Linked DNA regions of Homo sapiens. The protein of the gene in region 2 purifies or fractionates together with the protein of the main gene of each other region. This does not show direct contact. Each region holds a gene or a part of one and is shown on either strand. Other genes may lie near its edges.

The links.
Region 1: the proteins of KCNIP3 (region 2) and KCND2 purify together in Homo sapiens (affinity purification with western blotting; 2 studies listed by BioGRID). This does not show direct contact.

Annotation. Positions count from the first base shown.
Region 1 is NC_000007.14:120,268,657-120,276,187, reverse strand, and holds the start of KCND2 (A-type voltage-gated potassium channel KCND2), read right to left. Parts: upstream 3,014-7,531; 5' UTR 1,556-3,013; coding exon 441-1,555; intron 1-440. UniProt on the Homo sapiens protein: Voltage-gated potassium channel that mediates transmembrane potassium transport in excitable membranes, primarily in the brain. Mediates the major part of the dendritic A-type current I(SA) in brain neurons.
Region 2 is NC_000002.12:95,370,330-95,377,351, reverse strand, and holds part of KCNIP3 (calsenilin), read right to left. Parts: intron 3,057-7,022; coding exon 2,932-3,056; intron 2,505-2,931; coding exon 2,435-2,504; intron 2,215-2,434; coding exon 2,144-2,214; intron 1-2,143. UniProt on the Homo sapiens protein: Calcium-dependent transcriptional repressor that binds to the DRE element of genes including PDYN and FOS. Affinity for DNA is reduced upon binding to calcium and enhanced by binding to magnesium. Seems to be involved in nociception.

The DNA of each region.
Region 1 (7,531 bases), on a different chromosome or scaffold from region 2:
ATCTATTCATATGAAAATAATAGTTCAAGTATACCTGGAAACTTTTCATTTAAATGCATTGAACCACTTTATAGACATTTCAATATACATTGTATATATTTGTGTCTTTATTAGGGCATAGATTTTGTTTTTCATTGTCATATTTTTATATATTAATATAAATATTGCTACTACTTTCATATATTCAGGAATTCTAAAATTTCTTTGTATCTTTATCACTTTCAGGCATCAACATTTGCCAGCAATGCCTTAATACTTCAACGTGTGTATTATACCCATTTCACAGATGAAAAGAGTTTTGCCAAACCATTTAGATAATGCTTTCCTAAACTCAGGAAAGAAAACAAATGATTTCCCCGGAGTTACCATGTAACCTCGATGGGTCCACAATCGCCTCACCCATACCCAACCTCCATCCCATTTCCCATTATGGCACCTACCCTAGTGTTGTCATGGTGACGATGGTATACCAGAAGGCTGCAGGGATGCTGGTGAACTTGCTAGCCGAAGACCCCTTCTCTGCGTAGAACATAACTGTAGCGAAGATGATGATAGCCATGGTGAGCGAGAAAAGCAAGAAGCCCAATTCTGAGGCACAACTCTTCAGTGTGTACCCCAGGATGCGCAGGCCTTGAGAGTGGCGGGAAAACTTAAAGATCCTGAAGACCCGGAAGACTCGGAGTGTGACAAAGGCTCCGCTGACGTCCTCATTGTCTGTCATCACCAGCCCAATGTAATAAGGCAGGATGGCCACCACGTCGATGATACTCATGACACTACGCACAAAACGGTAACGACTAGGCGCTGCAGCCAGGCGAAGCAAATACTCAACTGTGAAGATCATGACGCAGGCCGTGTCCAAGCAGAAGAAGGCCACAGCATACCGCTCTCCACAGGGCAGTTCTTTAATGTGACCTGGGCTTGATCCGCACGGCACTGTTTCCACCACATTCGCGATGACAGAGACGGCAATGAAAAACCCCGTGACATAGTAGAACACCAGGGCCATCGTGCTGGTGTGGGGGTTCTCGAAGGCCCTCCAGACCCTCTGCCTTGCAGTCATGGTGGGCAAGGCGCTCTCCCCAGCGGTGTCGGTATCCGCGTCGTCCTGCAGGCGCTCGGCGTTCTCTCGCCTGCGATCCTTGTACTCCTCATAACAGCAGTCGCCGATGATTTCCGGGATGAGGCCAAAGAAGGCCAGTTCTTCATCGTAAGCAGAGATGCACTCGTGGCGAGGATAGTGGAGCTTCCCAGTGCGGTAGAAATTCAGGATGTGGCGGAAGATGTCTGGGTCACGGTCAAAGAAATACTGCTGAGTTTCTGGGTGGTAGAAAAAGTCCCTCTCAGAACTGCCCAGTAGAGTGTCTGGGTAACGTTCCAGGGTGTCCTGCCACGTCTGGAAGCGGGTGCCACTCACATTCAGCACAATGAGAGCATCTTGGGTCCTTTTCCTCTCCTGCCTCGGGGGAGCCGGCATAGGCCCCGAGGCCACAGGCATCCACCCGATAGCCGCTGCCCTTGCAAAAGGCAGCCACGCTGCCACCCCCGCCGCCATGATTACTTGAAGCGGAAGGAAGAAGGGTAACGAGGCGTCTACAATGGGTCACCGAAGCAGCCAAAAGTCACCCACTTCCTCCAGTCAAGCAAAGTACTAGTGAGAAACGTGGTCCAGAGGTGTAACTCTTATTCCAAGATAGGGCTCCTGGTAAAGTCACAGTTCTCAGAAGGGCAACTTTCCCTCCAAGACAGGTATTTGGAATAATGGCAACAAAATACAACGTCCTAACAATCACCCTCAACAGAACCCAGCCAAATCTCTTCCTGCAGGTGGGCTAGGCCACCCTCTGGCACAAATAAGCACACAGGTGCAGCCGTTTCTTCAAACAGGTGTTTTTGATTTCTCCCCGGCACAGTCTGGATAATATAGGGTCAGTATGTGGAGTGTAGGATAGAGAAGACGAACGAGAGTCACCCAATAGAATTCTTTCGACGAATTAGGGAACCCTTACACCTACCCTTCTCACTCTTTCAAACCTTCCTTTCCAAGTAGCCCTTCCCGCCAAAGGAGTCTCAAAAAGGCGACCTGTTGTTGTAGCTCAGGAGATGCGGTCACAGCCGCTGCCCCACGTCTCTCTTTGGGGGTCCAGCTGCTGCTGCCTCTACTCCTCGGGCTGTATTTGCAGAGATGGAGGTGATGTGCAGTGGTTACGGTGGGGGGCGTTAATAGAGATTCTCCTCCCCCACGTCTACAAACACCCTCTGTGTCTGCCAAAAGCGTTCGCCCAATCGCCCCTTCACTCTCTTTTCAAGTTCAGCTCAGGTGCAGTGTGACAGTTACAGAGCTCAGGAGCTGGCAGCCGCCGCCGCCGTGGCGGCAGCAGCATCTGCTTCCGCGCAGAACGCGCCGCTCCCGCGGTACATACCTGGCCAAGTGCGCGCCGGGGCTTAGTTGCATAGAGACTTTCTCCTCGCCGTGCACCCGGAAAGGGAAGAGGAGAGAAAGCAGCTCGCGAGCAGCCGAATCCGATGCGCCGAGAGAGCATAAATAAAGCTCAAGCGAGCTCTTCTTTCCCTTCCCCCATCCCTCCGTGCCTCCCTCCTCCTTTTCACCTTCCAAAAGCCAGGCGCAGGCGAGCAGAGCAGCAGCAACAAGTTCAAAAGGTGCGGGGGAGGCGAGAACGGAGGGGACTCGCTCCTGCCAACTTACTGCGGGGCCACTGTCGCGGGAGCCTGGCCAGCGCGGTGCGGGGCTGCGGGGCGGCGGGGCTGCGGGGCGGCCGGGCGGGCGGCGTTGGCGCGGTGGGGCCGGGGCCGGGGCCGGCACGGGCTCTCGTCCGAGCGCGGAGGCAGAAGGCGCTCGGCAGCGCGGGGGCGCGGGAGGGCTGCTAGCTGCTTCCCCGCCAGTGGGTGGTCCTGCATCTCCCCGGGCTCCCCGCGCTGCTCTGCTAGTGCGATCAATAAATAAGGAGAAAATAAATAAATAACCGCGCGCACGCCCCGCCACGCAGGTTAGGAAAGGCGTCTCCTGCCTTTCCCTCGGCTTGACCTTTCTCCGCCCCCGCCCCCTCGGGCTCCTCTCGCTCCACCCCAGCCACCCACCAACCCCGGCGCAAAATGTCACCGAGGGAGAGCATCCAGGTGGATCTGCTGGGGAGAAAAGCGAGCCTCGGATGAACAAAGGGAAGCTTCACGTGCTGGGCTGCGGTGGTTTGGTGGAGGAGAGGAGAAAGGGGACCCGTGCCTTGCTTCTGCCTCTCGAGTCCCGGTTCAAGGCGAGCGTGGGAAAATGGGGGGAAAGAGAGCGAGAGAAGCTGGGAAGGAGGGTGAGCGGAGCGGAATGCGCAGGAATTGGTTGTCTTCTGGGGGCGACTGGAAGGCAAGACCCGCAAAGCTCCGACGCGGAATTTTTAAGTGCATTTCCTCTTTCTGTTTTTATTTATTTTCAAAACCAGATTGTTAACGTTGCAGGGATTGATATGCCATCTGTCCAACTTGCCAAAAAATCAGAGACTCTCCTCGATCGAGGTCTTGACACAACTCCTTTTCCCGTCCTTTACGAATAACAGGGATGTGGAGCCCTTTTCTAAATGTCATCGTCAAGGGGCGTGCGTCTCTGAAAGTTTGCGTCCCCTTCATCCTCTCTGCGCATCACTGCGCATATTTAAAATAGTTAAAAGAGTTAAAGGTGTTCGTATGAGGGGTTACTGAGGTAGAGAGACACAGGAAAATTGTCGCTACCAACCTTTTTGTTTTTCGCGTACCCCGCCCCCGAGTCATTAGGAATCATCCTTAAAACCAAACGTAACACATACAAGCCACTAGATGGCGTGGATGGCGAGAAGTTAAATCTGCACCTAAGGTTTGGATGCTTTAGGAAGGTGAAGGATCAAAATTAACTGGTCCAACAGAGAGTCAGATCACATAAACATCCCCAAACCCCTTCGCTGCCACCCACCTTTTTTGTGTTTATGTGACATATACTACTTAGGCTTGAGTCTGCATTTGGATAGTTGTGGGATGAGATGTGGAGAGTTTCCTTTTGAAATTCCTTTGAAAATTAAATCTAGATTACTGAATCATCATCATCATAGTAATTAAGATCTTTGGCAATAATGAGGCTTCATCTGTATTGATGAAGAATAGTAGCCTAATTTCTACCTAAAAATTACTTTTCATGGCTTGGTTTGACTGCCCTTGGTTTGTAAAATAAGTGGACTGTGTGTTGTACTTTACGGAAATTGACTTTTAAGCCCTAGAGATTACAGGCATGATGTGTCAACCTTGAAAATTTGAAATGGGATACGTCAAAGAAAATATATAAACTAAAAAATGAGTATAGAAAATAACCAGAGAATTTAAAATATCCTTATCATGTACAGGATTTTCTGTAGAGATAAAAGGGTATTTTTTGTTTGTTTATTTGTTTACAGAATAGAGATTTAAGGAATCCTGTGTCAGTAGTAATGAAGTCAGAGCTAATGCACCATTTAAGTTTGAGGACAAGGAACTGAAGACACCTGCTCTTTATCTATTTGTTTAAGTGAAAGATGCTTGTTAACCAATCTATATAGCCTGCATACCTGAAAACAAACACACAAGCATGTTACCTGGAAAATGGAAATGAGGGGCTTACTACCAATTAATATAAGAAAACCAACCCCTCGTTAGTCCAAACAGTAAGGTGGCACTATGACAGGTGCTGGGCATGGAATCCAGAGGGTGGAGCGCCATGAATATTTAATCAATGCCAATAATGGCATGCTTTCCTGTAAAGATGGGGCGAGGAACCTAAATAGAGCCTTTAAAACTGTGTGGGAAACTGAATGCTTACAAATGTAAAAGTAGGAGCTTAACTCACAAAAGCCCCAAAGAAGCAAGAACATAATATGTACAGTTTTTAAGAAGGTACTGGGATCTGCCCTCCTGCATCTTCAACAAGCTTCTTGATATAGTGGAAAGAATGTGGGCTGAGAACTTAAACACATCTAAATTCAAAATCTTGCTTAAGAAATTACTTACTGGCTTTGTTTCATTTGGCAAATTACTTCTATGATTAGAAATTATAGATAATGAAATTTAACTTTTCAGGCCTGTCGTGAAGATGAAACAGGATCATACTTCTGAACACCAGTGAAATACTTAGCACATGAAGTGTACTCAATATTGGTTCTTTTTTATTGTAATGCATAATGCTAATGCAATTCATTTTATCCAGCCCGTATTTGGAATTCCCTTAGATACTTTCCATAGTTATGTATTGCTTAATGACAGGGATACATTCTGAGAAATGTGTCTTTAGGAGATTTCATCACTGTCTGAATATCATAGAGCGTACTTACACAAACTTAGGTGGTATAGCCTACTACACACCTATGCTATATGGTACAGCCTATTGCTCCTAGACTACAAACCTGCCATCATGTTACTGTACTGAACACTGTAAGCAATTTGTAACACAGTGGCAAGTATTTGAACCTCTAAACATATATATACACAGAAAAGTTGCAGTAAAAATACAGTATAAAATATTTTTAAGAACGGTACACCTTTATTTGGCACTTCCTATGAATGGAGCTTACAGAACTGGAAGTTTCTCTGGGTGATCAGTGAGTAAGTGGTGAATGAATGTGAAGGCATAGCACATTACTGTACACTTCTGTAGACTTTATAAACACTGTATATTTAGGCTATGCTAAATTTATTTTTAAAATCTTATTTTTCCTTCAATAATAAATTAACCTTAGCTTACTATCTTTTTTTACTTTAAAAACTTCAATTTTTAACTTTTTGACTCTTTTGTAATAACACTTAGCTTGAAACACAACACATTATACAGCTGTACAAAAAAATATTTTCTTTATATCCTTATTCTGTAAGTTTTCTTCTATTTTTGTACTTTTTTTGTTTTGTTTTGTTTTGAGACAGAGTGTCGCCCAGGCTGGACTGCAGTGGTGCGATCTCAGCTCACTGCAAGCTCTGCCTCCCGGTTTCACGCCCTTCTCCTGCCACAGCCTCCCGAGTAGCTGGGACTACAAGCACCTGCCACCACGCCTGGCTAATTTTTTGTATTTTTAGTAGAGACGGGGTTTCATCGTGCTAGCAAGGATGGTCTTGATCTAGACCTTGTGATCCACCCTCCTCGGCCTCCCAAAGTGCTGGGTATTTTTGCACTTTTTAAAAACTTTTTGAATGTTTTGTTAAAAGCTAGGACACAATTACACTGGCACAGACCTACACAGGGGCAGGATTATCAGTATTACTGTTTTCCATATCCACATCTTTTCCTACTGAACGTTCTTCATTCTGTCTTCAGGGACAGTAACATGCATGGAATACCAAGGCATACCAATGCCTTCTTCTGGAATACCTCTTGAAAGAGCCTGCTTCAGGCTGTTTTACAGTTAGCTTTCTTTTATAAGTAGAAGGAGTACACTAAAAAATAATGATTAAAAGTATAGTATACTAAATATATAAACCAGTAACATCGTTTATTATCATGATCAAGTATTATATATTGTACATAATTGTATGTGCTGTACTTGTGCAAGACTGGCAGCACAGCAGCATCCTCACAGACACCTGAGTAACGCATTAGGCAAGGACATTACAATGGCTGCGCATCCCTAGGCAGTAGGAATTTTTCAACTCCCTTATAATCTTTTTGTTTTTTTCCTTTCCAACTTTTATTTTAGGTTCAAGGGGTCCATGTGCAGTTTTGTTACATGGGTAAATTGCGTGCTTTAGGGGTTTGGTGTGCAGATAATTTTGTCATGCAGGTAATCAGCATAATACTCAATAGTCCCCTCCTTCTACCCTCCACCCTCAAGTAAGCCCCGGTGTCCACTGTTTCCTTCTTCGTGTTCATATGTGCTCAATGTTTAGCTCCCACTTAGCAGGGAGAACATGTGATATTTGTTTTTCTGTTTCTATGTTAATTCACTTAGGATAGTGGTCTCCAGCTCCATCCATGTGGCTGCAAAGGACATGATTTGTTTTTTTTATTGGCTGCACAATATTCCATACTATGTATGTGCTACATTTACTTTATCTAGTCCACTGTTGATGGGCATCTAGGTTGGTGTCATGTCTTTGATATTATGAATAGTGCTGTGATGAACGTACATGTGCGAGTGTCTCTAGGGCAGAACAATTTCTATTCCTTTGGATATGTATCCAGTAATGAGATTGCTGGGTTGAATGGTAGTTCTATTTGAAATTCTTTGAGAATCTCCAGACTGCTTTCCACAGTGATCATGGCAATCAAGCAAGAGAAAGAAATAAAAGGGATCTAAATAGAAAGAGAGGAAATTAAACTACTTCTCTTTGAAAACTATATGATTTCATACCTAGAAAACCCCATAGTCTGCCCAAATGCTCCTGTCTCTGTGAACAACTTCAGCAAAGTTTCAGGATACAAAATCAATGTACAAAAGTTAGTAGCATTTCTACACATCACTAACATCCAAGCTGAGAGTCAAATCAAGAATGCAATTCCATTCACAATAGTCCATTATAATCTTATGGAACCACT
Region 2 (7,022 bases):
GCAGTTTACTGTCGGGGGAGGTAACAGAGAAGCGGCCGCACCTCCAGATGCCTGCCTGGCTGCCACTTCCAAACTGGGCCTGACTTGATCCTGGGCACTGAAGAGGCCCCAACAGTCTACGGAATCGTTTTGGAAGCTCTGCACGTCCTGGCAAGCCAGATGAGTTGCACGAGAAAGGCCCTGGTGGCCAGAGCGTTCAGCAAATCTGTGTGTGGCGCTGCTCACCTGGGGCTCCCTGCTGCTGGCAAATCCCAGAAGGTCCGTGGGGATGGGAGCAGGAGCCACTCCAAGGTGGGGTGTGGGGATGGCATCGCCCGCTTGGCTCTGTTGAGGTCTGTGTGTTTTCCGATTTGGTCTTTTTGGTTATTCTTTTTGGTGAGCGGAGGGAGGGTATTACCTTTTACCATATCAGTAAACTGTAACTAATATGCATCTTGTCTCTAAGAATATACAGAAAGGGACAGAATCATTGCAGACAGTGTCATGCAGGGTTGCCTTGCATTACAGACGCACGTAGGAGGCTCTGAGGGCTGGCAGTGAGGATGGCCCGGTGTTCTCCAGACTAGATTTGGTGCCTCCGTCCCTGGCAGGATCCTTTGTGACCACTGGGATCCCAGTCTGTGGGGCTCCCAGGATGGGGCCATGGGGGCTTGTGCCCTCCTCCTTCCCAGAGCAGAACACTTTGAAATCGAGAAGTTCCTCAAGGTAAATGTACCTGCGTGAAGCCAGAGGACTTCGTTTCACGTGCAGAGAAGCTGCAGAAGGCCCAGGAAGATGCCAGGGATGAGTGATCTTCTGAGAAGGTGCCCAGCAGAGGGGCCACAGCACAGCCACTGACAGACCCAGCCCAGAGGGCTGCCACCTGCTTCCTTAAAGGGCCACAAGGCTGTCCCTCAGGACAGCGAGGGTGATGGCCACAGGAGGTGAGGGGCGACTGTGACCTTCCTGAGCACTGCCATGAGCAGGGGCTCTGCCGAGCCTCTCAGTCATCTCATTCCTGAACAAGAAAAACCACTCGCACCCCGCCTGCTCCCTTACACCGTTTCCTAAAGATGCTTTACTGCCTGAAGTGTCAGGTGCCTCTTAAAGGGCACCCCAGGAGAGAGGGGCAGGGAAAGGACCTTGAGTCCTCCCTGAGGCTCCTCCATGCTAACCGGGTGTTTTCTGTGTGCTGTGGGGTTGGTATTTCAAATCTGAAAACAAGATTTGAAAACACGGTCTGCTTCTATGTGCAGAGCCCTCAGAGTGTGGCTCAGAGTCGAGGGGTCCTGTGGTCACAGGGCAGGCGGGGAGCGTCAGTGTGCCTGGCGGGCTTGCGGCATAAAAATAACCCGCGCAGCTTATCGACAAGTTATTATTACCCCGTGTGGCCGGGGCCTTCTGGCCCCATGTGCTTCTCTGTGCTTTCCTGTTAGCTGCCCTTAGCCCAGTGGAAGCCAAGCTGTCGGGGTATCGATCAAGCCGGCTCTCAGAAAGGTTTTCCTCCCCAAAGCGGTTTCAGCTTTTCGCCTGCAGCTATTTTTAGAGGCTTGGGCTCCGCAGATGGGGCCTCTCTCCAATGATCCTGTGTGGCGGGGCTGGGGAGGAGCCCAGGCCAGGACCCCACAGGGAAGCTGTCTGGGTGGGGGACAGGCTTCTCCTTCCGCCAGTGGGTAACACCAGGCTTTGCTCTCAGTGCCCAGCTGGGATGAGCCCTGGAGGCTGCTCCGGCTGGGATGTTTTCTAGATATTTTTGGCCTATTTTCTGGGTAACAAGGAGTAAATTCTGAAAATGGAGGTCTCACATCCCACCGTCAGCAAACCAGGCCTCTGAGTTAAGCCCTGATCCCTTTGAAAATGCAAATTCCCGCTGGGTCACTACCACCCGTGTGTGTCTCGGGGGCTCCCTTGACCAGGCAGAGCTGGATGCAAACTCTCAAATGGAAGAAAAGGCTGAGAACGTGGTGCCGGCCCAGCAAAGTCAAACACCCCAGAGCTCACTGGCCCAGGGCCAGCCACATCCACTCATTCCCAGGGTGACTCACAAGATCCTTCCCACCCAGGACCATGGCTCTCTCGACAGCCCTGACAGTGACGCCAGGGTAAGGATTCACTCCTGCAACCACAGGGGCAGGACACGTGGGAGGAATCCGCGAGGACCTACCTCAAAGTGGATGGCCCCGTTCCCGTCCGCATCAAAGGCGTTGAAGAGGAAGTGTGCATAGGTGGTGGCATCTGGGGAGGGCAAGGAAGAGGCTGGGGTGTGTCGGGGCTGCCTGGCGGCTCATCTCCCACCCCAGGCAACCCCAGCTGAGGGTGCTAACTGCGTCCTGGCTTGGAGTCCCTGTTTCCCACGGGACAGGGGCAGCACCAAGCCTCCAGGATGCAAGGGGCAGCAGGAGGGTCCCCTCCCTCCACACTGGGACACAGCAGGGCTGCCCTGCCTCAGACTCACCTCCCTGAGGGAAGAACTGCGCGTAAATGAGTTTGAAGGTGTCTTCGTCCACCAGGCCCGTGGGACACTCCTGCAGCAGGAAGGCACCCCCTCAGCCCTCGGCCACCCCCAGCTCCAAGCCCGACTCTGCATGGTGCCTGGCTGGCCTCTCTCCACCCCCTTGGGGGCTGCCTGCTGCCTGTGGCACTGCTGGGGCCCCCTGGCCTGGGTTGTGGAAAGCCTGGGTAGAGGTGGGGTGAGAGGGAGGAGGGGTGAATAGGAAGGGGGTGACTGCTCCCCCATACCCTCCTCCTCTGTACCAGCAGCAAAGACACGGAGGGAGGAGCATGGCGGCCTCAGCGATGCCCATTCCGGAGCCTGCCCCCGCCACACAGCTTTCCCACAACACATAAGCCCCTTAAAGGCCCCTGGGATATTTACTGTGGCATGGAGAAGTTTCCAGGTCTCCCTGAGCCAGGGTCTCCAAGGCCTCTCCCGGGGGAATGGGGAACACTCACATTCTTAAAGCCCCTGTAGAGAGACTGCAGCTCCTTCTTGGTGAACTTGGTCTGGGCCTGCAGCTGGTCCAGCCCCTCTGGCTGGTGGCGCACCGTGGACAGCTCCAGCTCACTGTCGCTGCTATCTGGAGTGGGACACAGACCAGAGAGTGTAAGGCCTGTAGCCCTGCTCCTCCATCTTGCTCCAGTGTGGCCAGGGCATGGGCCAAAATAGCAGGTGGAGGAACTCTCTTTGCATGACTACCATGGACAGCCACACAGGCTGTGCACTGCACAGAGGGGGTGTGACTGAGTGGCCCACACAAGAGCTGTGCCTCTGCTTTCCTGCCCCCCACAGGGCGGGCCTCCCCATCGCAGCCCCTGCAGTGTGCCCCCCTGTCAGCCGCACAGTGGGACAAGGTGGGAGCTGCTCTTGTCCTAAAGAGGCACTGAACAAGGGGATATAGGAGGGGGAAAGACAGCAAGACAGGCATGAGGGACACTTGAACTTCAGTATCCAATTCCTAGACCACTTCCTCCATGTGGCCCTCCCTGACTTTCCCCAGGAATGGAGAGGGTGCCTCCCTTGGCCCTCAAGGCCTAAGGCGATGCTGTTCAGCTACAGTTGGCAGAGGGGTGTTATTCACATCTGGTTAGGAGGCTAAACCTCCAGGGCTGTGGGGGCAGGGATCAGACCTGTCCTTTAAAAACAATACACAAACTTGGCAGGGTGCGGTGACTCACACCTGTAATCCCAGCACTTTGGGAGGCTGAGGCAGATCACGAGGTCAGGAGATCGAGACCATCCTGGCTAACACGGTGAAACCCCGTCTCTAATAAAAATACAAAAAATTAGCCAGGCATGGTGGCGGGCGCCTGTAGTCCCAGCTACTCGGGAGGCTGAGGCAGGAGAATGGTGTGAACCGGGGAGGCGGAGCTTGCAGTGAGCCGCGATCGCGCCACTGAACTCCAGCCTGGGTGACAGAGCAAGACTGCATCTCAAAAAAAAAAAAAAAAAAAAAAAAAACCACAAACTTGTTAACTAACCATGGCTACATTTGAGGGGGAGGTGCAATTTCAGGTGATTTTTACTTTTTTATTTATGATTTTAAAAAACATTTTCCTAATTTCTTTTGGTGTGACATGCATCACTTTTACAATGCAAAATAAAGCTAGGGCTGAAACAGCACTGAGTGCCCACACCTTGCTGAGCAGCATCCTCGCATAATTACAGAGCGCCACCTTCCCACAGACCCAGGACTCATGGGCCCCGCTGCACCGTCGCCCTGTCTCCCCTGGGCCACACAGAATGGTGGTGATCCATAATCACCCTCATGGCTGGTACTCTGGTGCTGGCTGCTGCCTCTCCCACTGCACAGTGAGCTCTTCAGGGGCAGCTGTCCTGCACAGCTCATCCTGTGCCCGTGGTGCCTGGCATGGTGCTGGGCACTGGTCCTGTGCTGAGCTTGCTCCATACCCAGGCCTCTCCCGAGAGCGTGGTGGGAAAGACAGCCTGCACTGCCCACTCACACTAACCACAAGAGCACCCTGAAAGCTGCTCAGCAATTGGGCTGTTTCTTTGGTCCACACATGCTCCCCATCTCCAAGATAACTATTTCATACCATCCTTCCCCTTAAGTTTCCAGTATCTCCTCTCCCATCCTTACCCTCAGGTTGCTTCCCACTTCACTGAGAAGACACAAGCCATGGAGGAAAACTTCCCCAAGCCCTCACCCCACACCTACCCACCTGCCTGCACCTGGCCCAGACGTCTGCACGCCTGCCTGCTCCATGGCTGAACTGTGCCTGCTCCCAGCAAAGGCAAACCTGCCACTTGTGCAGTGGGTCCCGATCCCTCTCACCTACTCAGGCAAGCGGTGCCAGCCAAGTCTCCCACTCTTTCCTCATCACCTTTTCCCCTCTTCTGGATCATTCCCATCACCATATAGACATACTGTAGTATCTCGAATCCTTAGTCATATTAAGTATAGGCAAACCCTGTAAACCAGCATCCCACGCCAGGCAAGCATCCCACATAGACTCTTCCCCTGCCCAGGGGCCTGCACAAGGATGCTCACAGCAACAGCATTTTTGGCAGGAGAGTTGGAGGCAACTCAGGGGTTTATGGCAGGCAGGATGGGTAGGCAAAATATGGAGGCTGCACACTGGGGAGAACTGTGCCGTGGAGCAGATGTACACACAGCAGCGTGGATGGATGGATGGATGGATGGATGGTAAGAATCCTTTGATTAAGAGGCAGACTTTTCAGACTGGAAAAGCAAGATCCAATTATATCCTGTTTACAAGAGGGATACTCCTAATACAAAGATATATTAAGGCTGGGTGCTGTGGCTCACTCCTGTAACCCCAACACTTTGGGAGGCTGAGGTGGGTGGATCACCTGAGGTCAGGCGCTCAAGACCAGCCTGGCCAACATGGTGAAACCCCATCTCTACTAAAAATACAAAAATGAGCCGGGTGCAGTGGCGGGCACCTGTAATCCCAGCTACTCAGGAGGCTGAGGCAGGAGAATCGCTTCAATCCAGGAGGCGAAGGTTGCAGTGAGCCAAGATCGCGCCATTACACTCCAGCCTGGGTGACAGAGTGAGACTCCATCTCAAAAAAAAAAAAAAAAGATTTAAAATAAAAGAATGGAAAAACATTAAGAAAGCTGGATGTTTTATAATGATACAAGGATTAATTCATCAAGAAGGCAGAATAATCTAAAACAGACATCACCTAGTAACAGAGCTTTAAAATACCTAAAACAAAAAATTCAGAACTAAAGAGAGAAACAAAAAAGTCACAATCATAATTGGAAGATTTTAGCACCCCTTTCCAGTAAATGGTATGACAAGTGACGAAATAAAAGGTTTGAAAAACACCATCAACCAATTTGACCTAATTAATATTTATAGAACACTGTATAATTGTAGATACACATTCTTTTCAAGAGCATATCCTGAGGTTACCAATATATATCAGATGCTGGAACACAGACTCTTACCACAATGGTACTAAGTTAAAATTCAGGACAAGATATTTAGAAAATCTCAAGTATTTGGAAATAAACAATACATTTCTAATTAGCTCATAGGTCAGAGAATAAACTGCAAGGTGATCACATTTTGAGATATTTTGAATTGAATGATTAAAAAAACAGAGCATATCAAAATTTGCTGGATGCAGGTAAAGCTGGGCTGACAGGGAAATTTATTGCTTTCAATTCCTTTATTAGAAAAGAAGATAGGTGTAAAAGCAATGACATAAGCTTCTAGATCTAAGAGTCAGAATCTAAAAAATGCAGAGCAAATTAAATTCAAAGTAAATAGAAGAAAGAACATAATAAAAACAAGAGTAGAAATCAATGACAGGCTGGGTGCAGTGGCTCACGCCTATAATCCCAGCACTTTGGGAGGCCGAGGCAGGTGGATCACTTGAGGTCAGGAGTTCAAGACCAGCCTGGCCAACATGGCGAAACCCTGTCTCTACTAAAAATACAAAAAAAAAAAAGTTAGCCAGGTGTGGTGGTGCACACCTGTAATCCTAGCTACTCAGGAGGCTGGGGCATGAGAATCGCTTGAGCCCAGGAGGTTGGAGATTGCAGTGAGCAGAGATCACACCACTGCACTCCAGCCTGTTGACAGAGCAAAACTTCGTCTCAAAAAAAAAGAAAAAAAAATCAATGACAAATATAAGCATAGCCACAAACCTTATAATAAAGTCATTAAGAAACTCAAGTCACAGGCTGGAAAAACATATCTCCAGTATATGTATCTGACAAAGGACTCATTTCCAGAATACATAATTAACTTCTACAAATCAGCATAAGACTAATAACTCGATTTTGTAAACAGGCAAAAGACAAGGACGTGTCACAAAAAAAGATATACAACTGGCCAATAAGCACAGGAAAAGGTACTTGAAAGGACATGTGAGAATTCATGCAGTGATGGGAAAACTGGAGTACTGGCTCAGCCAGAGTGGAGATACCTCCCTAAGCATCTCAGGTGTTGGCTGAAACCCCAGAAAAGCTATGCTTTAGGACTGTGAACCACATCCTTGAGTAAGCGCATGCTCTAGACCCAATGACAAAGTCAAAACAAACCTAC